5 linked regions of the Homo sapiens genome follow. The protein of the gene in region 1 interacts with the protein of each later gene in a pairwise test. Each region holds a gene or a part of one and is shown in the gene's direction. Other genes may lie near its edges. The genes, in order: WDFY3, RABGAP1L, TRIM39, CEP76 and BTG3.

The links.
Region 2: the proteins of WDFY3 (region 1) and RABGAP1L interact in a two-hybrid assay, tested with the Homo sapiens proteins (one large-scale study listed by BioGRID and IntAct).
Region 3: the proteins of WDFY3 (region 1) and TRIM39 interact in binary tests that used the Homo sapiens proteins (3 or more experiments, as listed by UniProt).
Region 4: the proteins of WDFY3 (region 1) and CEP76 interact in binary tests that used the Homo sapiens proteins (3 or more experiments, as listed by UniProt).
Region 5: the proteins of WDFY3 (region 1) and BTG3 interact in a two-hybrid assay, tested with the Homo sapiens proteins (one large-scale study listed by BioGRID and IntAct).

The regions. Positions count from the first base shown.
Region 1 is NC_000004.12:84,734,591-84,740,891, reverse strand, and holds part of WDFY3 (WD repeat and FYVE domain-containing protein 3), read left to right. Parts: intron 1-475; coding exon 476-705; intron 706-1,772; coding exon 1,773-1,882; intron 1,883-3,525; coding exon 3,526-3,708; intron 3,709-4,564; coding exon 4,565-4,722; intron 4,723-5,771; coding exon 5,772-5,849; intron 5,850-6,301. UniProt on the Homo sapiens protein: Required for selective macroautophagy (aggrephagy). Acts as an adapter protein by linking specific proteins destined for degradation to the core autophagic machinery members, such as the ATG5-ATG12-ATG16L E3-like ligase, SQSTM1 and LC3.
Region 2 is NC_000001.11:174,164,815-174,171,115, forward strand, and holds part of RABGAP1L (rab GTPase-activating protein 1-like), read left to right. Parts: intron 1-6,301. UniProt on the Homo sapiens protein: GTP-hydrolysis activating protein (GAP) for small GTPase RAB22A, converting active RAB22A-GTP to the inactive form RAB22A-GDP. Plays a role in endocytosis and intracellular protein transport.
Region 3 is NC_000006.12:30,338,817-30,345,117, forward strand, and holds the end of TRIM39 (E3 ubiquitin-protein ligase TRIM39), read left to right. Parts: intron 1-1,091; coding exon 1,092-1,114; intron 1,115-1,455; coding exon of another isoform or gene 1,456-1,545; intron 1,546-1,688; coding exon 1,689-1,804; intron 1,805-2,895; coding exon 2,896-3,443; 3' UTR 3,444-4,913; downstream 4,914-6,301. Other genes in the region: TRIM39-RPP21 protein, read left to right, coding at 1,092-1,114, 1,689-1,804, 2,896-3,080.
Region 4 is NC_000018.10:12,688,304-12,694,604, reverse strand, and holds part of CEP76 (centrosomal protein of 76 kDa), read left to right. Parts: intron 1-3,117; coding exon 3,118-3,246; intron 3,247-6,301. UniProt on the Homo sapiens protein: Centrosomal protein involved in regulation of centriole duplication. Required to limit centriole duplication to once per cell cycle by preventing centriole reduplication.
Region 5 is NC_000021.9:17,600,989-17,607,289, reverse strand, and holds part of BTG3 (protein BTG3), read left to right. Parts: intron 1-2,292; coding exon 2,293-2,430; intron 2,431-3,013; coding exon of another isoform or gene 3,014-3,145; intron 3,146-6,301. UniProt on the Homo sapiens protein: Overexpression impairs serum-induced cell cycle progression from the G0/G1 to S phase.

The DNA.
Region 1 (6,301 bases):
CCTAAGACTTTTCAAAGGGATATATTTGTATTTAAGCCAAAGAGAAAAATTCTCAAATGAGGGGATGAAATTAGAATGTCAAAAAAAAATGATTTTAGTAACATCTTAATTTTTTTCAGTACTTTTGAATATAGATCATTTATCCTAACAAAATATATTTGTGAGGAGACTCCCCTAGCTGTCACATCCTCGTGTTCTCAGGGAGACTGCTCTGCCCCACAGCATCGTTAGTGGCTCTCCTCCCTGGGAGCTCTTTTTTTTTATGTAGCCCTCATATCATTCATTAGATGATATTGATGTGTCTCATGGGTTCTGAAATCCATAATAGTAAGAGCTTTGTATCTTTTAACTTAGCACCTGCATACTTAGCATGGCATCTGGTATATAATAGACCTAATAAAAGTTCATGTATGAATGATTAACAGGTGTTTTACTTTTGTCTATTATACTAAAAACATACCTTTCATGTCTTTAGTCAAAGAGAAGATCACAGGGATTGTCACTGGATGCAGTGTATCATTGCCTCAATAGGACCATCTTGTACCAGTTCTCACGGGCACACAAAACCGTTCCTCAGCAAGTAGCTCTGCTTGATTCACTCAGGGTCCTCACTGTAAACAGAAACTTGATCCTGGGACCTGGGAACCATGACCAAGAATTCATTAGCTGTCTGGCCCACTGCTTGATAAATCTACATGTTGGAAGGTAAATCCTTTAGGTTCAGTTTGCCATGTTAAATTTGGCTTTGATGTTATTCCAACAAAATTCTTTATTTTTTTTGATAGTAACATTTCTTTTACCCTTACTCTGTTTTATTTAAACCTTTATGTAAAAAGGTAAAGGGCAAGTGTTGAATTTTTGCAGTGAAATAATGGGTATTTTTTTTTCCTTTAACTTAGTTTTCTACACCTTTAAAATTTTCCATTATCACCATATGTCACTTATATAAGGAAGTTTGCTTTTAAAGCAAATAAAATATATACCATTGAAATCTAAGAGAAGTAAAAAGTGAAGCTCAATGCAGTGTTATATGTTAAATGAGTAAAATTAGTATTTTTCAGTTGATTGCTTTGACAGATATTTCATTAGAGTCTGCCGGGGCCAAGCATTGAATTAGGGGCTGGGACAAAATGTGAGTATGATAGACCCTGTGGCAGCCTTCTTGAGGGGAAACAGCTAAGCAAGACCAGTCAGCTGTATTGAGTGATCTGCTAGGAACAACCCAGTGCTTTGGAGGCACATAAGAGGGGCCCCTAACCTGAAAGAAATACCTGCTGAGCTGCAGCTTGAGACCTGGTTGGGGAGGACAAGAGAATGGAGACAACTGCTACTGGAGGAAAGAACAGTCTGTATGAATGCCCAGAGGGAAGAAGGAGTGTGGCACCTCAGGGGAACTGCAACTACTTCACTACAGGAGCAGAGTAGTGAGATATAAGACTGGAGAGAGGACACAGGCATATTAGAAAAATGTTCTTAGTTGAATGAACATTTTGTAATTATTAGGTAAAAATGTTCACAATAATCAAAAGGCATGTTAAATATTAAGGTAATAATCTTGATGCTATAGATCAGTCTAATTACATTTAGTCAGGTGGATTTATTTGATCACCTCTTAAAAATGGCATCTTCCTGGCAAACTAGAATTCTGTTCTGTGCATCTGCTGAGTAGACATTCAGTGTCTGCTGGTAATGGAAATAGAGTAATTCTTAGTTACTGTAGTCTTCAGCTAATCATTTCCTTCATAAAGTTTAAACTGACTGGAATTTTTCAGCAACGTGGATGGATTTGGACTGGAAGCAGAAGCCCGCATGACCACATGGCACATTATGATCCCCTCGGACATTGAACCAGATGGTAGTTACAGCCAAGATATTAGTGAAGGTAATTGCCTTGACTTGGGATGTTTTTAAATTGTGGTTGTTTTATCTCCAGTTTTTAAGACATAACCAACAAATTGGCTTCAGAAACTGCCAGCATTGATAGCAACTCTCCCAGTAGGGCAACCTATACATAAAGAGTCTCCTCATGCCAATAACAGTAAAGCACTAACCAGTAATATTGCTAAGCTCATCATTTCTTAGTAACACTGTGAGATTTGGTGGTGGTATTAATATTTACATTTGCTTAAGTAGAAGTACAAATACTACCTTGGAATTAACTATAAAGAGAACTGCCCAATGATAATGCCAGGCATATCACATTAGAGTAGGCTAATATTGCTTGAGACAGGTTATCAATAGTGCTATTTTTTATTCTTCTTTATACTCTCTCTCTTTTTTTTTTTTTTTTTAAACAAAATCTTGCTCAGTTGCCCACAGTGGAGTGCAGTGGCACTATTTCAGCTCACTACAACCTTTACCTTTCGGGTTCAAGTGATTCTCATGTCTCAGCCTCCTAAATAGCTGGGACTACAGGTGCACATCACCACGCCTGGCTTAATTTTTTTTTGTATTTTTAGTAGAGACAGGATTTCACCGTGTTGGCCAGACTGGTCTCAACCTCCTGACCTGAAGTGATCCACCGGCCTTGGCCTCCCAAAGTGCTGGGATTACAGCTGTGAGCTACCATGCCCAGCCCCTCTCTTTTTTTTTTCAATCTGGTTTTCCCACTAATCCTGTAAGGATTGCATATTGAAGTCTTTGTATGGATTGATTTCTTATTTCCACATGTTTAGTGATAAAGAGAAATCACTCTGGTGGTGTTTGTCTCCCCAGAAATACTGTGCGATAGTTTTACATATGGTTTCATTGTTGAGAAGCCCAGCACTCATTTTAATTTCATTCCTTCATTTAAACATGAATTTATTCTCTGTTCTTTCACCAAAATGTTTTGAACCCTAAACACCAAAGATGCGGTTATTATTTTCACCCCCTGAGGAAGTGGCGTTGGTTCTCATAGCAAGGTCCTCAGAATAGCAACATCAATATCATTTGGGAACTTGGTAGAAAAGCAGATTCTGTTGCCCTACTCTGACCTACTGAATCAGAAACCCTGAGGTGAGGGACTAGCAGCTTGTTATCACAGGCCCTCAGGTGATTGCTGAGGGCCGACTGGTCTGGAGGAGGAGTCAGGCATACAAACAAGGAATCCAAAGCAAGAATGAATTTCATAGTAAAAGTCTTTTCAAAATATTTCTTTTCTTGTGCAAAATATTCAAGAATACTAACTTAGTTTTGAACTCACCTTAAACATTCAGATTTAAAAATTACTTTTAAATGGGGGATAAGTTTTTAATCTAGAAAAAGTTAGTTAATTACATATATATAATTTCCAATTTTATAAATAAAAATGTTCTTTTGTATGAATATAAAGTTTTTTTAATGTTTTCTAAATAGGCAACCACAGTTTCAGTTGTCTAAATAACCTTTTCACTGGGCTAGATACAACATGAGCTTTGTTTTTTTTACATTAAATACTGTAGTCGAAATTCCCACATGTAAACATGAAGAAAAATAAAAACTAACTTTATACTGTGTTTTGATCATTTGCTTACTTTTTTGTTTGTTTGTTTGTTTGTTTACTAGGGCGTCAGCTTCTCATAAAAGCTGTCAACAGAGTTTGGACTGAACTGATACATAGTAAGAAACAAGTCTTAGAGGAACTTTTCAAAGTAACTCTACCTGTGAATGAAAGGGGCCACGTGGACATAGCTACAGCAAGGCCACTCATTGAAGAAGCTGCCCTGAAGTGCTGGCAGAATCATTTGGGTAAGGCCTACAGAGATCATACCACCAGGAGATTTACATGTGGCTATCATATATGGGTATACTTTAAATATGTGACTACAGCATTCACAAAAGGATTCTATAAAGTCATCCTTAAAATCAATATAACAACCATTCTAGAATGATTATACTGAGATCTTAGTTCTCTTTGATTTTTTTTTTTTTTTTTTTAGCATCTGAGGTATGTTATACATCAGGCGTTTATGCATTCAGAATGTAATGCATTGCTAACAGCTCTAGTATTGTCACTGTCTTGGCTACAGGTCCACAATCCCTTAACTATAATTTTGAAATTCAAAAAGCTCTGTTTTTTCATTAATTTGGTGCCAAAACTGACTTTATAACAGAACCTAATTTATCTTTCTTTGTCCTACTTGGTATGGGAATATTCATACATTTTGTTGCAGTAATATTGACGTATTAAATTATAGCTTATTACCATAGATTCTCTGGTGGCATTATATAATCTAGTGTATAAGCTGTATAGCCTTTTAAAAATCCAAATAGTTTCTAAGTTGCGAAGTATACCCAACACCAAAGGTTTTAATTAGGTGATTATGAATTATTAATATAGAAACTCGTTATAGTTAAATTTGCATGTTATTACAGAGCTGTGAACTTTCAACCAACTATCAGTTCAGCTAATACAATTTGCGAGCAGTCATCCTTAAGATTACCAATAAATAAATTTGTGATATCTGAATGTAATATCTGCATCTGTAATATGTGCTACTTTTGTTAACTACAGGGTTGTAGTTTATAACCAGATAAGTTTTTAAAGTAAGACTCATAAATACATGGAGAAATTATAAAATAATCTAATTTGATTTTTTAATAGCCCATGAAAAGAAATGCATAAGTCGAGGAGAAGCTTTAGCGCCCACCACACAGTCCAAATTATCCCGTGTCAGCAGTGGCTTTGGTCTTTCCAAGTTAACAGGATCAAGAAGGAATCGAAAAGAAAGTGGTCTTAATAAACACAGTCTTTCCACCCAGGTACTTTTTTAGTTTCATTGCTGATATTAGTTGTAGTATTTTGTATAATATACTTAACATGTACAAGCAATTGATTGGAAATGAAACTTTTCTGTATTTTTGCTTTAGAATAGAGATAGAAGTAATCCAGACTATGGGAATTTCTCTCATTTTCTTATGATAAAACTATATATGAGTGCTATTTACTTATACCCATTTTATAACTGGATATAAGATGAGATTTAGAGATTAATGTATGATCAGACTATAGATAATTTTCTCTCAATTTTCCCAGCTTTCAATAATGTTATTACTAATAATTATATAAATTTTAAGGCAATAGCCAAACAAGCCTTTTTTAATTTTTACAATCTTGTTGTGTATACCTATGGTTTTTTAAAAGCTCATCTGCCTCCAGCATTAACTTCTTCCTCATCCTACTTCCTTCACCATCCCAGAATCTAAGTGGCAGCTATGAAAAGGATCTGAGAGAAATAGTATGTGTCAGCCATCTCATGCATCAGGTTAGGTTTTCTAGGAAGCAAACTCTGAGATGGAGTTTAGTGTGCATAATGTATATTAGGGGGTGCCCTTGGGATCAATACCTGTGGAAGGGAGAAGAAAGCAGGATTGGACATAGGGAAAAGTCAGGCTGCAGTGCTGGTCTAGTGACAGCCTCAGCCAAGCTAAGTGGAGCTTTGAGGACAGAATACCCTCTTATAATTGACCTCCATTAAGCTGAAATGTGTGAGTCTTCTTACCCCTAGATCGTTGGATGTGGGGCACCCCGTCGGCCCTCTGCAGCTAAGGCCATCCCTGAGGGTGTTGAGAGCAGCCCAGACACGTGGGCAGCAAGCCCTTCCTTGAAGGGGCTTTGGGGGTGGGAGAGCATGCAGATCTGTGTCCATCACACAAGCATATAATTCATTCTGAATTTTTTGTTTTAGTTTTCTGTTTTGGTGCTTTTGGCAGAATTTTAACCAATTATTTAGCATTAATTTCAAGGGTAATTAACTATTTTTTTCCAGAAATCCATGAAATATTAAGACTCTTTTTCCATCCATTGTTAGGAGATTTCGCAGTGGATGTTTACTCACATTGCTGTTGTTCGTGACTTAGTAGATACACAATATAAAGAATATCAGGAGGTAAGGACTTATAATCATCATAATGGTTTGTTTTACATTTTTTGTATGTGAAAGGTCTCTGTTTGTCCTGGTATCTTTCTGCCCATTTTAAGGTACTTGCTGGACTGCATTCGTCATCAGATGATGGTTTTAATTATTCCTGCCATCAGCTACTTTGGCTACTGATTTTAGGATGGAAAATTTTAATCTTCTGTCAACAAACTGCATTTCAAAAAGCAACTAACTGAAAATGAGCCCAGCTGAATTCTGTTGACATTCACTACTGATATGTTACATGTCTTTGTTCCTAATAAAAATAAAAATGTAAGAATGAGCCTTCTTTTTCAGGCTTTTAACAAGGAGATTGTGAAAATACGCATCCAAGTCTCTGAGAAGTCTCTTAAAATTGTAAAAAATTACAAGATTGAATGAAATTATTTTTTACTATACTACAAGTGCTTGGTGATTATGTC
Region 2 (6,301 bases), on another chromosome or scaffold:
CAAATACAACTAGTTTAGCCTACCCTCTTAACTTTGTAAGTGAAGGAACATACTAAGAGCCTCAAGGCCAAGGTCAGATAGTGAGTTATTAGCAAAGCCAGGGCTCTGGACTCAATCTGGAGTTGTTTCTGGTGGGCTTCTTTCCTAACCTCACTTAGTGTGTATAAGGGATTGTGTTAATCAGTTTGAATAAAGATGGACCTTGACCCTGAGGACTTTATGCTTAGGTGGGGGATTAAATATGGAAACAACAGTGATAATGAAAGGCAGAAAGTAATGGGTGGTAAAAAGATAAAGATAAGGAACTATAAGAGTTTAGAGAGGAGGGAGAGATTACTTTTATTTTTGTTTGTTTGTTTGTTTTTCGTTTTTGACCCAGGCTGGAGTACAGTGGTACAATCTCGGCTCACTGCAACCTCTGCCTCCCAGGTTCAAGTGATTCTCCTGCGTCAGCCTCCCTGAGTAGCTGGGATTACAGGCGCCAACTGCCACACCAGGCTAATTTTTGTATTTTTAGTACAGACGGGGTTTCGCCATGTTGGCCCGGCTGGTTTTGAACTTCTGACCTCAGGTGATCCATCCGCCTCAGCCTCCCAAAGTGCTGGGATTACAGGCGTGAGCCACCGTGCCCGGTCTACTTTTAGTTTTAAGGATAAAAGAAGAGGTGACATTTGAACTACTTTTTTTTTTTTTTTTAATTTGGAGACAGCATCTCACTCCCGTTACTCAAACTGAGTGCTGTGGTGCCATCACAGCTCACTGCATCCTTGATTTCCTGGCCTCTAACAGTTCTTCTGCCTCAGCCCCCAAGTGGCTGGGACTATATAGGCACACACCAACATGCTTGGCTAATTTTTCATTACTTGTAGAGACGGGGTCTCATTATGTTGCCCAGGCTGTTCTTGAACTTCTGGACTGAAACTGTCCTCCTGCCTCGGCCTCCCAAAGTGCTGGGATTACAGTTGTGAGCCACCACGCCCGGCCCCTGAACTATGCTTTGAAGAATGGGTAGGATTTGGACATGTGGAAATAGGACAACTAGTATGAGAGAAAGGCCTTTCTGGGCCAGGGGCCAGGGTGATCAAAGGCATACAAGCATAGACAGGGAAAAATGAGTAGTGAAAGAGCTAGGCAAGAAAGAGTCCGTTAGCACCAGATGGTTAAGAGCCTAGAATGCCAGTTTTCCTTTCTGCTTTTCAGTTTATCTTTCATTTTTGACTCTGGAGTAATCTAGTACTTCTTAACATTGAACAGGATTTATATGTTATGATTAAAATATGATCCAGAGAGCACATAAGTATCCTTAGAGTAGAAGCTGAAGGGAAAAATTATTAGTGTTAGAGAAGCAACCTTGAGTTTACCAATCCTAAAAGTGTTGGAAAGTGAAAAATATTTTATTTGTAAGGAGAGACAGTGTTTTTTTTTTGTTTGTTTTTTGTTTTTCTTCATTAGCGTCAAATTGGCTGTAGTAGAACAGGAAGCAGTTTTGAAAGTCTTTACAAGGGCCTTCTAAAATGTGATTTCTAAATGACTGGATCTTAATTTTTGGAGGCAGGTTTAGTTCAGGCAGAAGGGTAGTTTATACAGATCTGCAGCTAAGCTGAGTAGCTTTTAGAATTTAGGGCAGCAAAGCAGGGTATTTTATACAAAATCCACTTGTAAGGAATTGATGGCTTCTTTATTCCAAGAATTTTCTTAGATTTCAGCATTTATGTCTTTGACAGCCTGTATGACTGAAGATGTTTTGAAGTCTTGGATGGAACTTGCCTTGTTTCACAGGGGAATTGGGTAGCTAGAAATGAAGGTATAAATGCCAGTAAGTTGTGTCTGTTAATCAAGTTGAAGTACTGGTGGCAGTTCTCAAGCTTTTCTGTCTGCTGATGATTTCACACTTACTGCTTCTAATTAAATAGTGTGTAGTCGATTTGAAGAAGCCTTGCTTCTCTTTGACCCACCAGTTCTGTAAAGGTAAAAGCCTTCTTAGAGTGTTGCCCAGGTAACAACACATACAGAGACTGCTTAATAGCTCATCATGGAAGTGTGTGGAAAATTTTGGAAATGTTGGTAAAGAAGTTGCTATAGTAAATAACTACTTGGTTGGTAAAAAGCTGGGCTACTTCTGGATAGTTGATAAAGAGTTTTTGAGATGAGCCGTGGTTCTAAAATAAATATGAATTGTGTCATTGCCACACGATTTTCTTCAGTTATGTAAGCTCCTAATATGTAAATGTTGTCCTACCATTTTAGAAGGTGTCAGCAGTTTCATGTGACCTGTTCCACAATATAGCACACCCCAAACACCACGATAAGAGTTCAAATATGGCATGGCCCAGATGCCTCACACCAGTTAAATGATAAAGCTAATCATGTCAGCACAGTGTTTCTGTTAAAGTTTTTTCCCCCTCTTTTTTGAGGCATGTTAGTTTTCACGAATTGAGGTTATTAGAATCTTTCCAGATTTTCTGCCACCATTTTTTTTGTGTGTGTGGTAAAAAGTATAATGATGGTGCCCTTAATTAAATTATGTAAACATTTGTAAAGATATACACGCATACACATAGTGTGCATATATGTATGTGTAGACATACATACATATATATTTACATATCATTAGTTCTTGGAATTTGTGGTGAAAATACACCCACCTGGCAAATGGTTGAAAACAAGTGTTCTAGCTCTTTGAAGACTACCATGTGAGTATTCACAAATATGAAAGTAATGCAAACCCAAAGGGAGTTTTTGTATGCCCAATTTCAAGAAAGGAGCACATTTTAAAAGGCAAGTATGGAATTCATTCATATACCAGTGAGGAATTTCTCAACTTCTCCTTTACCCCACACATACACCCGTTTACCATTCTCATTATTAGCAGTAAGCAAAATTAGAAGACTTTAAGAATCAGACTTCTACTACAAGTGATGCAAATAAATATTATTTTTAGAAAAAATACAAACCTGTGGTTTTGAGTTATGAAGGTTTAAGAGACACATATCACTAGTTTTTTTTATAAACTACATGGAGTGTTTTCTGTGCTTCAAGATGTCGTAATTGTCATTGTGAGGCCTTTTGCTGAGAGCATTGTATAAAGGAATAGTTGTTAGAATGGTTATTAGGTGTTTCTTTGAATAGTTTATTTTTCTGTAGTCAATTTATCTTGCATACATTGATGGCCGGGGGTGGTGGCCCACACCTGTAATCCCAGCACTTTAGGAGGCCAAGGCAGGCAGATCACTTGAGGCTAGGAGTTTGAGCCTAGCCTGGCCAAGATGGTGAAACCCCACCTCTGCTAAAAATACAAAAATTAGCCGAATGTGGTGGTGTGTGCCTGTAGTCCCAGCTACTTGGGAGGCTGAGGCACAAGAATCCCTTGAACCTGGGAGATGGAGGTTGCAGTGAGCCAAGATCGTGCCACTGCACTCCAGCCTGAGCTACAGAGTGAGACTCGGTCTCAAAAAAAAAAAAAAAAAAAAAAAAAATTGAATAGAGTATACTACTTTAGTGAAAAATTGACCATTGAAAAATCAACCATTGAAGGGAGGTTATATATATATTGGCAGACAGTAGGGTTTCTGAAGTTGTTTTAGAATAATTTTGTTATTGAGCAGCTGTTTTATCACCAGACCTCATTCATTTATTATTGCTTTTTTCCATTTTTTTTTAAATCTCATGAACTGTATTCTTTCATTTTAAATCTCTCATATTTGCCCTGAAGTCAGTGGTCATATTTGGACTAATGTTTTGATTTGCTGTTGTCTGCGCAAAGATCTATTACCAAGTTGCATGATCAAGTTGGTATTGAATGGTAATTCAGTTAATGTCTTCTTCTCTCCATTCCTTTTTTCCTTCTGTATTCTAGAAGTTACCTTAACACTAGTGTGAGATTCCTGGCAAAGTTAATGGGGAAATGAAATTAAATATTACTGTTATTCAAATCCTAGGGTGACCTTTTTGCCAACACTAATGAACATAGAAAATTTTTCAGCATGAATTATGCAGCTTAAATTTTCACTGAGGCTAGGCCTCTTAAGTTTAAAAAATTAAAAGTTAAAAAAATATTTATGGGGTACAAGTGCAGATTTCTTACATGTATAGATTCTTACATGTATAGATGTGGTGAAGTCTGGGCTTTTAGTATACCCATCACCTGAATATCCACCATTCTGTATGTCCATGTGTACCCATTGTTTAGCTGTCACATATAAGTGAGAACATGCGGCATTTGACTTTCTGTTTCTGAGTTATTTTACATATGATAATGTAGGCCTCTTAAGTTAAAAAACATTCTGACATGCATTTTATAGTTCTTGTCAACATTATCAATAGCTTTGATAGATGAAACAGGTTTCTCCTGTTGCAGTTGGTATCACACACAATAAATTAGCCATCCCTACCATTTGAAAATATAAAGGTGTTTTTTTTTTTTGACACGGAGTCTTGCTCTGTCGCCCAGGCTGGAGTGCAGTGGCATGATCTTGGCTCACTGCAGCCTCTGACCTCTGCCTCCCAGGTTCAAGCAATTCTCCTGCCTCAGCCTCCTGAGTAGCTGGGACCACAGGCACGTGCCATCATGTCTGGTTAATTGTTGTATTTTTAGTAGTATTTTCACTATGTTGGCCAGGCTGGTCTCAAACTCCTGAACTCGTGATCTGCCAGCCTTGGCCTCCCAAAGTGCTGGGATTACAGGCGTGAGTGACTGTGCCTGGCCCAGATAAAGTTTTTTTAAAAGATAATCTAGTAATAGTAGGAAAGAGAAACCAGTTTATCAGTTAATCTAATACTTCCTATTTTGAATATAAATTTCATTGTGTTGCATGGTAACTTCATTATGTTCCACTGAGTATTTACTTTTCTAAAGACAGACCTTTAACAATTTTTCCTTTTTTTCATGTTTTGGAGACAGGGTATCTCTCTGTTGCCCAGGCTGGAGTGCAGTGGCACGGTCATAGCTCATTGCAGCCTCAAACTTCTGGTCTCAAAGCGATTCTCCAACCTTCGTCTCAGGAGTAGCTGGTGGGACTATAGGACTGTACCCACCACACTCTGCTAATTTTTTAAATGGGAGTCTCCCTATGTTGCCCAGGCAGGTCTCAGACTCCTGGGTTTAAGCAATCCTCCTGCCTCAGCCCTTCCAAGCATTGGAATTACAGATGTGAGCCACTAAACCCTGCACAATTTTTCAACTTTTGGGAATTTCACTTAGAGGAGGATAATAGTAGCTTTTAGACATTTTTATCAGTTATCCAAGGGTGGAAAAAAATACTTAAAATGCAAGTAACTACAAACATTTTTGGTTTTGTGGGAGACAGTGTAGATAGAACATAGAACCTTAATTCTTGATCTAGTGCTGCTGTGAAATTCAGAGAGAATAAGTAATTTAGACACAACTTCTTTCTCCTCTTTGCACATTAACCATGAGCTAATATTGAGTGTTTACATGGGGTAGTTATTACATAAGAAAATGTACATTATCTCGCTAATCTTCACAGTAACCATATGAGGTAGGAACGATTATAATATCATCTCCAGTTTGCAGGTGAGGAAGCAGGATTAGAGAACTTCAGTAACTTACCTAAGATCACATAGCCAGGCGCCGTGGCTCATGCCTGTAATCCCAGCACTTTGGAAGTCCGAGGCGGGCAGATCACGAGGTCAGGAGATTGAGACCATCCTGGCCACATGGTGAAACCCCATCTCTACTAAAAATACAAAAATTAACCAGGCGTGGTGGCATGTGCCTGTAATCCCAGCTGCTCGGGAGGCTGAGGTAGGAGAATCGCTTGAACCAGGGAGGCTGAGGTTGCAGTGAGCCGAGATTGCGCCACTGCACTCCAGCCTGGACAGAGTGAGACGCTGTTTCAAAAAAAAAAAAAAAAAAAAAAATCACGTAGCTTGTGAGAGGCAGTTATCTCTTGCTTCTAAATCTGTCTCACAGTGACTCTCTACTACTACTCTGTATTGACAATCTTTAAATGGGATGGTACTTGTTTTGCACATTTCATAGGATAGTTATGAGAATCAAAAAAGATAAGATGTACAAAAGAACACACAGATGTCTCTGGTGTATTCATTTTATTGGATAATATTTGAGACACCAAAGAAATCTTTGAAATCTTGTACACATATTTGTTTGTAATCAGTAATGCTATAAAATAAGTTGAACAGATGAATATTTGAAAAGTTATCTATAAAGACATATTTTGTGTGGGTTCAAGGGATCTGTGAGTGAAAGGTAGAGGAATGCAGAAATGTAGGGATGTATTATAAAAAGTGGATCAGATGATCTCTAGCAGCCTGAATTCTT
Region 3 (6,301 bases), on another chromosome or scaffold:
ATATTGCTTTTGATATGTATATATTAATAATACCTCTAAAGTGTTTGAAATATTTTGTTCTCTTACGTAAATGAATGGTGTTAGCAAAACTAGGGAACATATTTTTTATCTTAGAGATTAGATTACCAGCATTTGAAGCAGTGAGGCTTCATTGTACATTTATTTTTATGTTACGTATTGCTTGGTATTTGTTCCTATGGCCTTTCATGTATGTGTGTTCTGCCTTCCATATTAAACTGGGAAATCCTTGTGGGACAGAGATTTGTCTTCTTTGTCTTCTGGACCCCAAGTATTCACAAATCAGTATTAGCACACAGTTATTAATGTGTTTATTCTTCCTTTTTTTTTTTTCTGAGAGAGTCTTGCTCTGTCGCCCAGGCTGGAGTGCAGTGCATGATCTCGGCTCACTGCAACCTTTGCCTCCTGTGTTCAAGCGATTCTCCTGCCTCAGCCTCCTGAGTAGCTGGGGTTACAGGCGCACACCACCACACCTGGCTAATTTTTGTATTTTTAGTAAAGACAGGGTTTCACCATGTTGGCTAGGCTGGTCTTGAACTCCTGACCTCAAGTGATCCACCCGTCTTGGCCTCCCAAAGCGCTCAGATTACAGGCGTGAGCTACTGTGCCCAGCCAGTTATTGATGTTTATTAACTAATGCAAGACAGGGGATACCAAACCGTAACAGGAATGTGTGATTTGTTCCTATGCCACCAGTCTGGAACTCTCTGTACTTATCCTCAAGGAGAGTGAGATATGTGGTTGGTACTTGGGGGACAGAGTAAAGAATTGATACAATCCCTGTCCCTTATAGGGAGCTCCCAGCATCCTTGAGGAGCAAAGACAAGCATAAAAGAAATCATTGGGAAGTGATATAAATGACCAAGCTTCATGATGACCAGAAGTTGAAAGTAGGGATTAGGTTGGGAGAAGTGCATTCAGGTCCCGCTGGAGCTCTTCTTGCACTGTGTGACCCTCAGTTTATCCTATCCCTATTTTATAGCTGTGGAACTTTGGGGAGGAGGGGGAACCTTTTGCCTTCAGGACCACTGAATACCAGGACCAATATTGCTTTCTTTTCTCCTTCCTTCTAGGATGTCAAAAGTACCCTGGAAAAGTAAGTGATTGTTGTATCTCTCTGAGTGAGTTAGGTCTTGGCTTAGAGAGGAGGGGTACAGTCAGGAGTTTGGGTTGGGGGTGAGGTTGGGAAAGTCATGTAGTGTGTCTGGGCAGGGTATGGGAGAATGTTCATTGTGCCCATGAAGCCAGTTAGAGAACAAATTATTGGGAATAATAATCCCTTTTCCCCTTTGAACATCAGGACTTCTTGAGAAGGAGAATGATAAGGTAGAATCAGATTCTACTTGTGCCAGTGGGTGGAATTGTGTCCAAACAAGATGGCAGGAGGAAGGGGTTGGGAGAGCAGGGAGGGCAATCATCCATTTGCATGAAATACAGGAATATTCCTAGAAAGTTCGGAGGCTCACTCTCAACGATCTGTCCACGGGATCATAAGGCTCTCCTTGGATTAGTAAAAGAAATCAACAGGTGAGCTTTTCAGGGAGGAGGAAGAAAGTGGGAAGATGGAGAATTTTAATTTCTCCCTAAAAATGTTAACATCTGAATAGTCACTTGGCTGGAGCTTCTCCCTAACCCTGCCCTTTCTTCCCCTATCTCCCTATCCCTCCTAGATGTGAAAAGGTGAAGACCATGGAGGTGACTTCAGTATCCATAGAGCTGGAAAAGAACTTCAGCAATTTTCCCCGACAGTACTTTGCCCTAAGGAAAATCCTTAAACAGCTAATTGGTGAGTTGTTCCCAAAAGGAAACTAGAAGAAACCACTAGAGAGAAGAAAGTTTTTAGGTCCTACCTTATATGGGTTTCAGTTATCCTATGTCTCACTTTTCTTACTCCCACACACACCTACCCCTTTATCTGGCTTTTAGTCTCACCCTGAGTCACAGAACTTGGAGTGAGAGGAAGCCTTAAGCGTTATCTACTCTTAGGTCCATTCTTTTCTAAATAGAGACCCAGAAAGGTTAAATAATTTGCCAAAGTCATCGGGTAGAGTGGTTATATAATTTACCATGTAAACTTGCATAACCTTCAAAGGCCGGGTGCGGTGGCTCACATCTGTAATCCTAGCACTTTGGGAGGCCAAGGCTGGTGGATCACTTGAGGTCAGGAGTTCGACATCAGCCTGGCCAACACGGTGAAACCCCATCTCTACTAAAAATATAAAAATTAGCCAGATGTGGTGTTGGGCGCCTGTAATCCCAGCTCCTCTGGAGGCTGAGGCAGGAGAACTGCTTGAACCTGGGAAGCGGAGGTTGCAGTGAGCTGAGATCACACCACTGCACTCCAGCCTGAGGGACAGAGTGAGATTCCATCTCAAAAAAAAAAAAAAAGAAAGAAACTGAAAGGGAGTGTCATTATATTAATGTGAATATGCAGGGAAAATAGTCATAAACCAGGCCAGTTCCTGGAAAACACACATGGTCACCCTATCCCTAGACCATATGCTGTCTTGCTCGGCATCCTTCTTAACACTTTCCGTTTTTTTCTGCCCCTCAGACTACACCTTGTACTTCTCTACATAGTGAGATAAATGATAATGTCAGAGGGAGATGAAGAGAGGACCAGGCGGGAACCTAGATTACCAGCCACTGCAGACTCAAGAGATTATTATCTGTTTACTTTAGGGTCAGGGTGAGAAGTGAGCCATTGCTTTCTCCCCTTCCTTAGGTGACACCATGGATTGAGAAAGTTAACCAAACCAGGTTGTTCTGGGGACCTTTAAGGGACCAGGCTCTGTAAAGGCAGGCTGGAAGAGTGAGGCAGGGGCATTTAGCTATTCCCATCCTCATCTAGCTCCCCACTCTGGCTTCTCCCGCCAGCGGATGTGACCCTGGACCCTGAGACAGCTCATCCTAACCTAGTCCTGTCAGAGGATCGTAAGAGCGTCAAGTTCGTGGAGACAAGACTCCGGGATCTCCCTGACACACCAAGGCGTTTCACCTTCTACCCTTGCGTCCTGGCTACTGAGGGTTTCACCTCAGGTCGACACTACTGGGAGGTGGAGGTGGGCGACAAGACCCACTGGGCAGTGGGTGTATGCCGGGACTCCGTGAGCCGAAAGGGCGAGTTGACTCCACTCCCTGAGACTGGCTACTGGCGGGTGCGGCTATGGAATGGGGACAAATATGCAGCCACCACCACACCTTTTACCCCTTTGCACATCAAGGTGAAACCCAAGCGGGTAGGCATATTCCTAGACTATGAGGCCGGCACACTGTCTTTCTACAATGTCACAGACCGCTCTCATATCTACACCTTCACTGATACTTTTACTGAGAAACTTTGGCCCCTCTTCTACCCAGGCATCCGGGCTGGACGGAAGAATGCTGCACCACTTACCATCAGGCCCCCAACAGATTGGGAGTGACAGGTTGGGATGTGGGAATGACTGGGGTGAGGCAGGGTCAAGTGCTACGGGCCTCCTTCCCGTGTCCTGCTGGAACGTCTTCGTGTCCACCTGGGTCCAGTCCTGAATCATCTTGGAGAAACACCTTGGTTTCTAGGATGGTTTTGTGTGGAGGGGGAGGTAGGACTGGGCTGGATGAGAGAGCACAGCTGTGACTTCCTCCTAACTGTCAGGGTGGGGAGCTGGTTCCCAGAGGATTGTCTACCCTGAAGTCCATCAGGTTTTCTGTTGCACAAGGACGGGTCAGGAAGGAAGGAGAGGCTTTTCCAGAAACAAAAAATCTGTGAGGGTCTGACTTGCTCAAACCAGAGGAGGAAACAGAAACCCCTGCACATCTTTTTAGGGGGTTCTTTGACCCAGGATAGTCTTGCTTCTTGAGGTAGATCACAGGGGTCTGTGTACCTCTGAATTCATGAGAGATGAATGACAGATGCTCTCATGGGTCTAGATATTGAGGAGTTTTTCTGAGGGCAGAGATTGGACATCAACAAGGCTAGAAGGGTCAGGGAAGTGGGCTAAAGGAACAGATTCCTAGAGATTAATGAAGAGGAGGGAGGTTTCTTTGGTCTTCTATTCCAAGGGTAAGGTTGCGATTATGGGTAAGATTGGCCAGAGGTAGGAATGTGGGGAGAAGGAGAGGCTGAAAAGAAAGCAGAGGAGAACCCAGGTCCCTGCCTCAGCCTTCAGCAGAGTTGGCTTATTGCCTGCCTCTATACCAATAAGTCAGTCACCTTGCTCCTCTCCAGAGGCAAAGTGGAAGAGATCCTGCAAGACACATCTATCCTTTCACAGTGTTCCCAAGGGAACTTGGAAAGGAGAGTCAGGTATTAGAGGAAAGAGAAGGGTATTTGTATACAAAGCCCTGGCCTTAAAGAATGTTACTTAGTAGCTACTCCCAAATTGTCAGCCTTCTTACCTGGCCAAGGTGTCCAAGCCAGAAAGGAAAAAAGGTTATGGAGTCTTTCTCACCCTAAGGACAGGGTGGAAGAGGGTGGTATATAGGGAAGGGCCAGATAGGCAACTTCATTTGGCTTGTGTGCATCTGGCCTGGAACTGGTGTTAAGCCAGGCTTTTGCTTGTTTGTTGCCATCCCTCACCCTTTGCCATTTCCCTTTTCAGAGAATGTAAATGATTTTCATGTTAGGCCAAAATAAACAACTTATAGGGTACATATGTTGTCATAAAAGGTAAAAGTGATGCATGCCAAACCAAACTAAACCAATTTGGATTATCTGCTATTCGGGTAATCTTCACAGAAATGACTGAGAGAAGAATCTGCAGTTTACTGAGGGCATTTCAGTTCCTCCTACCACCTCAACAGGACTTTGTCCAGACTCTCCTCCTCTTACCTTTGTGCCTTGACTGTGGTTCTTTGTGGCAAGATACTTTGGTTGGTTAAAATAATATGGAACAAAGGATCCACTGAAGTGATCTCTGTGTTGTGTGGTAATTTGGTGACAGCCTTGTACTGATGTGTAAGAATCACTGGGTGTTAGACATGCATGTTCCTGGGTCTCACCCTTAGTGGTTAGTCAAGGTCTGGGGTGGGCCGGACATCTACATTTTATTTATGAGACAGAGTCTCGTTCTGTCGCCCAGGCTGGAGTACAGTGGTGATCTCAGCTCACTGCAACCTCCGCCTCCCAGGTTCAAGCAATTCTCCTGCCTCAGCCTCCAGAGTAGCTGGGATTACTATGGACTATAGCCATGCACCACCACACCCGGCTAATTTTAGTGGAGACAGGGTTTTGCCATGTTGGACAGGCTGGTCTCGAACTCCTGAACTCAAGTAATCTACCTGCCTCAGCCACTCAAAGTGCTAGGATTACAGGTGTGAGCCACCGTGCCCAGCCTACATCTACATTTTAAACACACCACTCTCATTTGAGTCCGAAAACCCTTGTGAAACTAGTTCCAGAGGAGGTTTCAGCCATGTCCTTCCTCCCAGCTGGAGCCCTGCTTGTCTGTCCCCGCCTGGCACTGGGTCTGAAATTGGAGAGAAGTCATCCTCTCCTGACTTATGCTGCCCTCCCCATCTCAGGGTTCATTGATCTTCTACCCCTCCAATTCATGTCCCTCTGCTTCTGACTTCAGTAACTGATAGTCACTATGAGTCACAGGACACCAGACAGAAGAACTGGAAGATAGAAGAGGTCAGAGGGAGGGGTGTGAGGTGAATGTCAGTGTGGGGAGTGGGGTGAAGTTTCAGGGGCAGGGGATGCTGTTGACAGATTTCTGTGCTGTACCTAAGCCTAGGAGTTAGAAACCATTCACTCAGAAAGTGAGGATCACCTACTGTGTGTCCAGCACTGCATAACAGGAAGTGTGTTTCTTTGGTAGGTGGAATAGTAGGAGTAAACTGTGCTTTCTGAGGACCGGGAGTCCTTTTCCCTCCCTCCAGCACCCTCATGATCCTTCCCACTTTCACCCCCACTGGCACCAGTGCTTTTTTTTAATGTATTACCTCTGTGCCTTCCGTCTGTAGATCTTACAGGCATCTGCCTCGGACCTCAGGAGAGTAGGGCAGAAGCTCTAGCTGGGTATAAATTGCACATAACCATCTCCCCAACGTAGCTACATAAAGAGACCAGCCTTCTGTCCTGAAAATGGCCGATTTAAGATCCTCACCTGCTCCACTAGGTCTCTAGGTGATATAATTGGTCATGAGCTTGAGGAAGACAAAAGCACTGAAAATTCATAAAGGGACCCTGGGCATGGATTGCTGGGGTTGTGTTTAGAAACCGATGAGTTTGTGAGGCCTCCGGGAGGCTCCCGAGGGCGCGGGGACTACGTTTCCCAGGAGGCCTCGCGCGGACGCC
Region 4 (6,301 bases), on another chromosome or scaffold:
TGTCTTTTCTGCTCTGTTCTCTCAGGGTAGAAGTGCTTGCCACTTTTAGAGTGTGTTTGGAGAGGCTTTTTTCCCTAATTCCACTGTCAGGTCTCTGATGAATTACTTTCTTCCTGGGTCTTAAAAGATCGGCAGATTTTTTCATTCCTTCACATTGGATTTGCCATCCATGTTTAGTTCTTGCCAGTCTTTAGTTTGGAGGTTCTCATTATCTGCTGACTTGCCGGGATGGCACTTGTGGAATGGTTCTCCTTGATTACATACACCACCCTTTACTCCACCCTGCCTGTCATATTGTTCCTTTTACAGACCTGTGGTTAGACGCTAGTGCTTCTCCCTCAGGCAAACAATGTCCTGCCCTGTTTTCTTTAAACTTTTTTTCCTTCCTTTTGTAAACTCTCATCTCCCTCTAATCTCTAGCTTCTGACATGTGTCATGGGTGGTATATATACCTGAAACCACATAGTGAGAACCAACTTTGATGTTACTCAAATAAATACCCAGCCCTGTGGGAGGCTAAGGTGGGTGGATCACTTTTGAGTCCAGCAGTTTAGGACCAGCTTGGGCAACATAGTGAGACCCTGTCTCTACAAAAATTTTAAAAAATTAGTCAAGCATGGTGGTACATACTTGTAGTCCCAGCTGCTTGGGAAGCTGAAATGGGAGGATTGCTTGACCCAGGAATTTGAGGTTACAGTGAGCTGTGATTGTACCACTGCACACTAGCCTGGGTTACAGACTAAGACCCTGTCTCTTAAATAAATGGTGTATACACACATATACATTATGTGTATACGTGAGGGGTTTTTTTGTTTGTTTTTTTCAGACAGAGTCTCGCTCTGTCGCCAGGTTGGAGTGCAGTGGCGCAATCTTGGCTCACTGCAACGTCTGCCTGCCGAGTTCAAGCAATTCTCCTGCCTCAGTCTCCTGAGTAGCTGGGACTACAGGTGGGTGCCACCACGCCCAGCTAATTTTTGTATTTTTAATAGAGACAGGGTTTCACCATGTTGGCCAGGATGGTCTCGATCTCTTGACCTCGTGATCTGCCTGCCTCGGCCTCCCAAAGTGGTATACATGAGTTTTAATCATGTTATTCATATATTTATGTGACATATAAAGTAAATGTTTGGGCTCTACTTTTTTGGGGTAGTAGCTTGTTTTTTTTAATTAAATTTTATTTTTTTAGAGACAGCATCTCACTCTCTCAGGCTTGAGTGCAGTGGTGTGATTATAGCTCACTGAAACCTCAGACTCCCAGCCTCAAGCAATCCACCTGCCTCAGCCTCCCAAAACATTGGGATTGCAGACATGGACCATTGTGCCCCACCAGGTTCTCCTTTTTAAACTTAACATTATTTTATATGTATTTTCTTATATTTCCACTGTCATATTTATAATTTCTAGTGACTAAAACATAAGTTTATTCTATTATCTGATAAATAAATTGCTTCTAATTTTCTCTTTAAAATTGCACTATTAAAACTTTTAGCCAGGCTAATTAATCTGTAATCCCAGCACTTTGGGAGGCCAAGGTAAGAGGATCACTTCAGGCCAGGAGTTCAAGACCAGCCTGGGCAACATAGGTAGACTTCATCTCTACAAAAATTTTTAAAAATTAACTGCACATGGTGGTGCATTCCTGTAGTCCCAGCTACTGGGGAGGCTGAGGTGGGAGGATCGCTTAAGCCCAGGAATTCGAGGCTACAGTGAGCCATGATCATGCAGTAGCACTCCAGACTGGGTGACAGAGCAAGACCCTGTCTCTTAAAAGAAATTAAAGTCAGAAATATGTATGGATCCTAAATAGATGTCAAAATGTGCTAGACACTGTTCTAGACACTGGAGATGTAGCTGTGTATAGGGCAGCAGACAGCTAGACAGCTTGCTCTCAAGGAGTTTAGATTCTAGTGCAGGAGAAACAATAAGTCAGCAAACAAAATAATCAGATAGTAGAAGGTGTTTTATGGAGAATTATTACAGGTGATATGATACAGTGGTTATTGGGTGGCTAATTATAGGTCGAGTGACTAAGGTAGGGAAAGAGTCTGAACAACAGGAAGTAACCAGCCATGCAAAGATTGGGGCTGAGCTTCCAGCACTGGGAACAGCCTAGAACAAAAGCCCCTATGGAGGACCGAAAGCCCTGTGTGGCTAGAGCGTAGTGGGTTGGGGAGAGAGGAGAAAATGAGATAGTCGGGCCAGAGTTCATAGGCCAGGGCAGGTATTTTGCAATGTGATGGAGAATGAAGTGTTTTAACAAGAGAATGACAGTATGTTTTTTTTTTTTTTGAGATAGAGTCTCACTCTATCGCCCAGGGTGGAGCACGGTGGCATGAACTCGGCTCACTGCAACCTCTGCCTCCCGGGTTCAAGCAATTCTCCTGCCTCAGCCTCCCGAGTAGCTGGGATTACAGGCATGTACCACCATCCCCAGCTAGTTTTTGTATTTTTAGTTGAGATGGGGTTTCACCATGTTGGCCAGGCTGGTCTCGAACCCCTGACCTCAAATGATCCACCTGCCTTGGCCTCCCAAAATGTTGTGATTACAGGCGTGAGCCACCATGCCCGGCTTGTATGATTTACTATTTAAAAATTTCTGGGCCAGGCGCGGTAATCCCAGCACTTTGGGAGGCCAAGGCGGGCGGATCATGAGCTCAGGAGTTCAAGACTAGCTTGACCAATGTGGTGAAACCCTGTCTCTACTAAAAATACAAAAAAAAATTTAGCTGAGTGTGGTGGCACGTGCCTGTAGTCCCAGCTACTCAGGAGGCTGAGGCAGGAGAATTGCTTGAACATGGGAGGCAGAGGTTGCAGTGAGCTGAGATCTTGCCACTGCACTCCAGCCTGGGCGACAGAGCAAGACTGCATCCTCCACAACCAAAAAAAAAAAAAAAATTCTGTCTTTGAGGAAAAAAAGGTGACTTATGATTATTGTATGGAGATGGGATTGTACTAGGGGTAAGTGTAGAAATAGGGAAGTCAGGAGGCTCTTATAGAAGATGATGATGACTCAGATTAGGGTGGTAATGATGTAGAGAAGTAGATAAATTTGCTACATATTTTGTAGTAATTAAAGATAATGAATAGAAATTGAAAAATATTTTTTTCAATTTCAAGCTTGCTTTGGAACGTCAGAAAACTGCAGAGAAAGAGCGATTATTTCTTGTATATGCTAAGCAGTGGTGGAGAGAATATTTGCAAATTCGACCCTCACACAACTCACGACTGGTTAAGATTTTTGCACAGGTTTGTAAATTATATTAGAATAATTTTATGCCTGTATTTGAGATTTACTGTTATGTGTGTAAATTTCATTTAATATTTATTTGTAAAATGTATTCCAAAAAATAAAAGTGTATTTGTAAAATAAAATGCTGATTTTGTAATATTCTCTTTCACTGCATAGTGAGTGGCAAGATCAATCTATGTCTTATTTTACTTTCAATTTCAGTTATTGTGGGTTTTTGAAAAATCACCTTTCTCAGGTTGAATCAATTATTGTGTTTTAAACCCTTTCTGAATATATTTGATTTAAAGTAGATGAAAATCCATTTTGTTTAACTTGGAATGTGTATTTGCTTGATACTTAGTGCTAAATAATTAACCATTTGGACACTTTGCAGGTTATATGTAAATCCAGCTCTTGTGTGCAGAACGGGGGGGGGCTCTGGGCATATATATATTTTTTGTTAGGGTTTTAAAAAAAATTGTATATAACCACGACTTCTAAGCCAGTGACCAGTAATGTTTAACTGAAGCATTTCAACTATATATCTCTGCCTCCATTTTTCCTGAGTCCTAAACCCATTTTCTCTCTTTAACAGACCAATATAAAATATATGGTCAGGTCAGCTAGGCGCGGTGGCTCACGCCTGTAATCCCAGCACTTGGGGAGGCCGAGGTGGGTGGATCAAGAGGTCAGGAGATCGAGACCATCCTGGCTAACACGGTGAAACCCCGTTTCTACTAAAAACACAAAAAATTAGCCGGGCGTGATGGCGGGCTCCTATAGTCGCAGCTACTCGGGAGGCTGAGGCAGGAGAATGGCGTGAACCCGGGAGGCGGAGCTTGCAGTGAGCCGAGATCGCACCACTGCAGTCCGGCCTGGGCAACACAGCAAGACTCCGTCTCAAAAAAAAAAACAACAAAAAATGTGGTCAGGTTCACGTATTTTTTGTAACTCCTAAGGAACAGTTCAAATATTTTGTATATATTCAGCCTCATACAGATGCTTTCATATAAGTATAGTGTAGTATATTATTTTAAGTTAAGTTTCTCAAATCCTGTACATTCATCCAGCTTTACCCTACTTTCCCTAGATTTTGGAACAGGCTAAAAGTGGTTTAGTGTCCAGATGGGGAGCTTGGGAATGAGAGGTTGACTAGAGGTGGGAATAAGGGAAATGGCTTCTGACTTTCTGATAGCGTTGTTTATATATTGAATGACTGGTTGGCAAGGTAACAACATTATCAGGACAAAGGCAAGGAGAAACCAATCAAAATGTAACTGGCTTCCTGGCCGGGCGCGGTGGCTCACGCCTGTAATCCCAGCACTTGGGGAGGCCGAGGCAGGTGGATCCTCTGAGGTCAGGGGTTTGAGACCAGCCTGGCCAACATGGCGAAACCTTGTCTCTACTAAAAATACAAAAATTAGCCAGGCTTGGTGGCAGGCACCTATAATCCCAGTTAGTCAGGAGGCTGAGGCAGGAGAATTGCTTAACCCGGGAGGCGGAGGTTGCAGTGAGCGAAGATCACGCCATTGCACTCCAGCCTGGGCAACAGAGTGAGACTCTGTCTCAAAACAATAACAACGACAAAAAATATACATATATATATATATAAACTGGCTCCCTGCTGTCTATATAGTCTGAGGCATTTATTCATTGCCACGTGGAATTAGGAACTAGAGAGGACTCAGGATGGAGTGAGGCAGTGAATCAGAGAAATGGCAGGATCAAAGAGGAGGAAGAAGTTGAAATGCACTAAGGAAGTCAAGGAAGTGGGATTTTCTTTTAGGAAATATTACTTAAACGACTTCCTCTCTCAGAATTCATTTTAAGATTTGAACCATAGAACGTAATTTAGTCTCATAGTAACCATATAAGATTGTCAAGTGGCCAGGCATTGGCTCTTTTTGTAAACAGTATGAAGGTTAGAGAAGTGAACAGTCTTTTCAAGGCCAAACAGCAACTCAGTCATGGCAAAGTCTGTGTCAAATTGGAGTTTCAACTGGTGCCTTTTTGGTTTATGCCACCTCTTTCCATATACATAGAGTAAATAAAATGCTGATTTAATTTAGATTCCTCAGAACTGTTTCTTGCTGCTTCCTGTATTTGACTAGTTCTGAAATTAAACAACAACAGTGTAAAACAGTCAATCTAATTATAAAAACAATAGTTATAAATCAAAACGTTAATATACATATCCAGGCCAAAAAAATTTCTAATGTATCCAGCACTGAAAGTAAAGTAAAGAACTTTTTTTTGTTGTTGTTGTGAGACAGAGTCTCAGTCACCCAGGGTTGAGTGCAGTGGTGCGATCTTGGCTCACTGCAACCTCCACCTCCCAGATTCAAGTGATTCTCCTGCCTCAGCCTCCCAAGTAGCTGGGACTACAGGCACGTGCCACCATGCCTGGCTAATTTTTTGTGTTTTTAGTAGAGATGGGGTTTCACTGTGTTAGCCAGGATGGTCTCGATCTCCTGACCTCATGACCCGCCCGCCTCGGCCTCCCAAAGTGCTGGGATCATAGGCGTGAGCCACCACACCTGGCCAAGAACTTTTTGCAATGATGGAAATGTTCTGTATCTGTGCTAACCAGTATGGTAGCCACCAGCCATGTACTGAGCATTCAAAATGTGGCTATTATGACTAAAAATAATTGAATTTTAAATTTTAATTAAAATTTAAATAGCTCATAATGGTTAGTGATTTTCTCACTGGACAGTGCCCATTCAGAGGTTGAAATATTAACTTTTCAAAACAGTTAAGTAGCTTGTGGGGATATATTTAGATAATATTAGAATATTGCTGTAATAAAATGATATATCTTACATTCTAAGATGCTACTATTGATGATTGACTTAGGCAAATGCTTCCACTTCTTATGTGCTCATCTTTTCTTGCCTGTTAGTGGATTTGTAAGAATAGGAGTAACAGTCCTGCACCTCAATACTAACCAAAGATCTGTAGATTTGCCGTGGCCATTATACTTAAAAATTCATTATTCTTTTTACCCTTTGTTAGCTGGTTTTGCTATAGTATAGTAGTAATTCATTGAATGATGCTTTTTGAACTTTTTAG
Region 5 (6,301 bases), on another chromosome or scaffold:
AGTGCCAAGCCACCATACTATTACTGAAAAAGGAGGCACTGTCAAGTAAATATTTAAAGGTCAGACAGTGTACAATTTCATTTCCATTAATTCTAAAAACTTGAGAAAAAAACTGAAACGATTAAATTGGCATGTGATCAGAAGTATCATTACTGAGTCATTTTAAAGCTGTATTTGAAGTAGAAAAAATAGTGGGTTGTTACTATTATAAAAATGAATAGAATATAAGATTAACCAAGTTAGTAGAGACTTCAGTCTGTAGAATAGGTGGAGTGTTCTTTCTCTTACAAAATGTTTGTAAGTTGAAATTGTTTTTCTGCAATATAAATAAGATACTTGTAGAGAGCAATTTGGCAATATTATCAAGATCTATAAAAATATTCATACCTTTTGAACAGTAAGTCTCCCAAGAATCTATTCTAGAAGTATAATTAGAAATGCAGACGAACATGTATGAATATGGATGTCTCTTACACTTTGTAATTGCAAAAATGGAAAGAACTAAACTGTCAACATTAAGTAAATGATAGAATATTTTTATGCAACTTTTAAAATTTTGTTTTTGAAGAGTAGTTAATGGATAAGTAGTATGTAGAGTGAAAAAAAATAGTACAAAACATGTAAGGTATGCAGATTTTGTTGAAGCATAGTCTCTGTTTAAGCATCTATATTTATATATAATTTGTAAGCTTAGAGCCTGTATCACCTTAATTGTAGATAAGAAAAACACATACATCTAAGATATATCTTTTTATCCTTAACTGCTTTTGGTCCCAGAGCACATGGGATCTTTCAAATTACCCTATACAATATTAGAATCTATAGCATAAGACCATGTTTTTAAAAGGACTAAGCAGTATTTTACATACTAGAAAATAATTTTTCTCACTTTGCCTTTGTTATATTGTTAATGGTGACGCTAAGATAGGTACGTATATACAGGGTTGAGTATTAAGGAAATAACTTGCTCTTTGGAGTCTAGTGGCCTGGATTTGAACCCTAGATCCATCACTTAGTAGCTGTGTAATGTTGGGAAGTTACTCAAACTCTCTCTGCCTCCTTTTTTCTTTATGCTGAGGAAAAAAGTATCTAACTCACAGGATGATCATGAGAATTAAGAGTTAATACATGCAAAGCATTTAGGAAATTGTCCATTGCATAATAAATTTTTTAAAATGCTTATTATTGTTAATATTATTATGTAGAAACACTTATTCCTATTACCTGTTGAGAACTTTTTCATTTTTTAAATAGAAATTAAAACCAACTAATAATTTAACTTTTACAAAAACTTTAAATAGCACATTAGTCTTTATATCATTGTATTTTACAGCGTAATTACTATTCATCAATTAACTTGTATTTCCATGTTTTATAGTTACAGGTCTGAGGAAGAGGTACAGTGACTTAACTAGGCTTACCTGATAAATACTAGGATTAGTGCTGAAATCCAAGTTCTCTTGATTGATTCTTGATTGTAGGCAGTAAATACTTTTCCTTCATAGGCCCTATTTCCCTACTTAATCAGAATGCTTATCATTTAACAGAATGCATATTTTTTATTTATTAAACATTCCATTAGGTAGATGTCGTATAATAGGTTAAAAAAAGATGGGACAGAGGCTTTATTGGTTTAGAAATTTTCCTCACTTAATTTTGACAACTATTTAAATAAAAGTGCTTGGGTAAATAGAAGTTAAATGAAATAAGCCAATAACATGTTAGTTAGGTATTTTAATCATAAGTATATGATATGAATGAATCTGTGTCCTTCACTTATCCTGTATTTATAGAACAATTATAGGTAAAGCAAGGGTGTCCTCTTACCACTTTACTATCTGAGATATAAAAGCAAGTTAATGACAGATCAGAATTTGTCGTAAGCATTTCCAAATACCATCTGAAACATTAGATGAGGCCTTTTGTTAGAGATTTTTTTGTATAGGAACTTGGCCTATAGAAACTTTTACCTTCAGAGTTCTAAAATTTCGTGCAACTTTCATACTCCGTGCTCATTTAATGTACATGGGTGGTCAAGTCTCTGGGTAGACTGAGGTAGACCCAGTACTAGTGATTTCCTTGGGCTCACATAGGTGCCATCTTTTTTTCAGGCTGCCTCTGTGCCTGTAGTTCACATTTATTATCTGTTTAGGATAGATATGCTCCTAGGTTCTCTACCAGGGTATTTTTTTATTACTATTTTATTACTCACCTTGGCAAGTATGAATAGATATTACGGCGTTTATGATTAAATTCATTTAAATCCATTAACGTAACTCCACTTTGTTGTAGATGTATTCGTGTCAATAAATTTCAGAGAGTTGATCCTGATGTCCTGAAAGCCTGTGAAAACAGCTGCATCTTGTATAGTGACCTGGGCTTGCCAAAGGAGCTCACTCTCTGGGTGGACCCATGTGAGGTGTGCTGTCGGTGAGTTCTCAAGTTTAGAGGCTGAACTGATGACCATGCTGGAACTAATTTTATGACATTCTGTCATGTACGGCCTGCCTGTGTATCTTTATGGCCAGGAGCTGGTGGTTTAACTCTCTCAGATGTAAATTTTATGAAATACTTTTCTGGAGGTGATGTTGAAGGACTAGTTAGATTTCTGCTTTATAGCCGAAAAAAGAAACTGATTAGGCGGGGGTTTTCTAGTAGTGCTTTGCCAAGAAGCTTATTGTAGACCAAGAAGTAGACACCTAGATTCCGCTAGGTGTCTATTATCTTTAATTGGTGGTGCACTTGTCTGTCTTCAAATTAAGAAGCTAATCCCAAATAATACTGGATAACCACTTTTGGTTTGTTTCTGTTTCTGTTTATTCTCCCTCTCTCCTCTTTTTTTTTGGGACGGAGTTTCACTCTTGTTGCCCAGGCTGGAGCGCAATGGTGCATTCTTGGCTGTCTGCAACCTCTGCCTGCCGGGTTCAAGTGATTCTCCTGCCTCAGCCTCCTGAGTAGCTGGAATTACAGGCGCCCACCACTGTGCCCGGCTAATTTTTTTTTATATTTGTAGTAGAGATGGGGTTTCACCATGTTGGCCAGACTGCTCTCAAACTCCTGACCTCGTGATCCGCCCGCCTTGGCCTCCCAAAGCGCTGGATTACAGGCGTGAGCCACTGCGCCCGGCCTCCTCCTTTTTGATTATGTAAGTGACTGAGTGATACTTCGTGGTTTTATTTTTATAATGGAAGTTATTTTTCACATCTCCTAATGAATAGAGTTGTGAAAGATCAGTGCTAGGTATGAAATCTTTTTGAACTCCACTTGCTCAAAAACCATTATTTGTGGACCAGGCACTCTCAGTTGTAGGGTTTTCAAAAACGAAAGCAACATTCTGCTTTTAGGTAATTCAGTTTGAAATTGAGAAGAAAAGTAAGCAAATTACATTGTTATCTGATTTATGTTAGAAATGTGTACAAAATGCAGTGGTAGGTTGCACAAAGTAGAAAGTTACTGCATCTGGTGAGGAGTCAGGAGACTACTGAGTAGGTGATACTTGAGCTGGGAGGTGAAGGATGAGCCATGGTTGACCAGGTGACAAGGTGGGAAGGATGTTCTAACTAGCAGGAAGAAGATGAACAGAGGCATGGAATTCCTGCAAGAATTTTCCTGTGGCTCTGCCTTTAGGATGTTTCTATTTGGTTTTGAGGTACAATTCACCTGACCACCTGGCCTCTTTATTGATTGTAGTAAAGTTGCTTTTTGAAGGAACCCTAACTATGTACTCCTAAGGTGGTCGCAGACTGACCTGATTCCAGCAATGAAGGTGGAGGTGAAGACAGGAGAGATGAATTACATGATTATTCTTCCATTAAATTTTGTCAGGACCACCGCTTGAGGTTACTACCTGATTTGCCAGTGGTTGGTGTAAGTTTATTGCTTTTGGAAACCAGATGTAGGTGGTAGAGGTTTGTGATAAACATTCTCCAATACTTCTTTCTCGGGTAGAAAAGGAGCAAGCTATCTCAAATTTAGGTCTGAGAAAATAAACATTTTTAGATTCTGGGACTAATTAAGGACCTGCTTTAGGCTAGTTTCAGACTTGGAAAACTTTGGCCACTGAACCTGTGCAGAAGACCTCCATTTATAAGAAATAGCTGTCAAAAAGCTACTATATTGAATTGTTTACTTTTTAATTTGACCTGCACTTAGATCCTAGTTGGCTCCTATTTAACACACAGTTAAGTTAGTTGTGTGGTTTCTTAACCCATGAAATGTGAGAAGCAGCATTTTAAAGAGGGTTGATGAGTCAGACGCTACCAAAAAATGTCATGTGGTCTGACATAGAGGCAAAAATGAAAAAGCTAAAAAATCAGCACGATTATGTTATCACACAATCAAATAGTTTACGTTCAATATAATGATCCTAAACCATCAGGGGAAAGTTTTTATGTCCAAGGATGTTTAACAAGTTACATAATTATATAAACATTTTGGACCTATGTATTTAAAATGCTTAAAATAAGTCTCAGTACCTGAACATAAAAACTTTAGTTATACGGACATTCTACTTCAGTAGACATTTCATTACTTGATGATGCCTGGTAGGAAAAAACTGCTACTTTGCTTTCATCTTATTAATCTTAGAAAACCTTTTCATTCAGTAGGCTTCTAATTTATATGTAAATTTGCCAAAAATTGGCTCTGATGTGATTTTTTTCACAGCTAATAGAAATCACCTGCGAGTGTCAGGTGTTCATTCAATAACAGAACCCCAAAAAGAAAGACGTATTAATCGTTTAGTAGAGGTGGTTGATATAAGTTAACAGAAGAAAAAGACATTGAGAAATATTTTTTCACCAAAACTGGAAACATAGATATTTTGAAAATTAAAGCTGATCTAGCAAGTATACAATTGATCAAATATCTGAGAATCTTTAAAAATAATAACTCATTGGTATACTAGAGACTAAGATTGTAAAAAAAAATTGAGATGCACTGAGAACATTCTTCATAGTCTTCACTTACTCTGATAGAATAAAATGCTGCAAGAGTACAAAGAGTGCCATATAGTTAGAAAGGTTATCACTTCGTGATACAGAATAGAAAATAAATCTTGCCTATGATGAGAAGTTCTGAGAACAGATGCCAGCTTATCTACTCAACATATTTTACAACTTTTTTTTTTTTTGGTGATTTCTGCCATCCTTTTTTTCCCCCAATAGAGTGTTAAATACTATTGATTGTTTCTAAATAACTAAATTAGCCTTGATGTTTTATCAGTGATCATTGAAAAATGGAAAGTTTAAAAGTTGTCCAGGTGTCTACTAATTCTCCTAAGATATCGACTGCACATTGTAATGTTATAGTAGTATAGTCAGCAGCTTCTCTTACCATGAAGAGAGAGCCTTCATACCAAAATAGTACAAAGGGAAAAATGCAGAACCAAACTAGGTGTCAAAGAAATCTGAGTTAATAATGCTGATCCTTCAATCATTAGATATTTGCCCTTGGTTGAGGTTTCTGTTTACAAAGGCAGGAATTTTTCTCAAATTTCTTGCCTTTCCATTTTTGAATTTTGATTCCATTAATGGGCAAAACTGAAGATAGGCCTAAGTCATTGTTATATTAGTGTCATTAACACATGAATTAACCCTTGATTGTCTTGAAATTTGTTGAGTCTTCCAACTGTGGAGGGGACATGGAGTAAATGTGTATTGCTAAAACCTTATGCTAAGTAAACTTGAAATTAGAGAACACAAATTTTATGTTGTGAGGAACTCAATTGTTTAGGAATTTATTTTTTGTTTGTTTTGTTTTGTTTTAGAGAGAGGGTCTTGCTGTGTTGTCCAGGCTGGAATGCGGTGGCATGATCATAGCTCACTATAATTGTGAACTCCTGGGCTCAAGCAATCTTCCTGCCTTGACCTTCCAAAGTACTAGAATTATAGATGTAAGCTACCATGTCCAGCTTCTGTTTAGGTATTTTATACTACGAAGAGTCACCAGCCGTAGATCAACCACTATCTAGCCAGCTCCAGCTTCCTCGTCCAGCATATAGGAAACTAAGGCCTAGGGAAATTAAGTGACTTGCCTCTGGTGACCAAGCTAGTCAGTGGCAGAGCCAGAATGAGAAACTAGTCTAATGCCCTTTCTACCATCCCGTAGCAACTTTTTTTTTTTTTTTGAGACGGAGTCTCACTCTGTCGCCCAGGCTGGAGTGCAGTGGTGCGATCTCAGCTCACTGCAACCTCTGCCTCCCAGGTTCAAGCAATTCTCCTGCCTCAGCCTCCCGAGTAGCTGGGATTACAGGCGCACACCACCATGCCCGGCTAATTTTTTGTATTTTTAGTAGAGACAG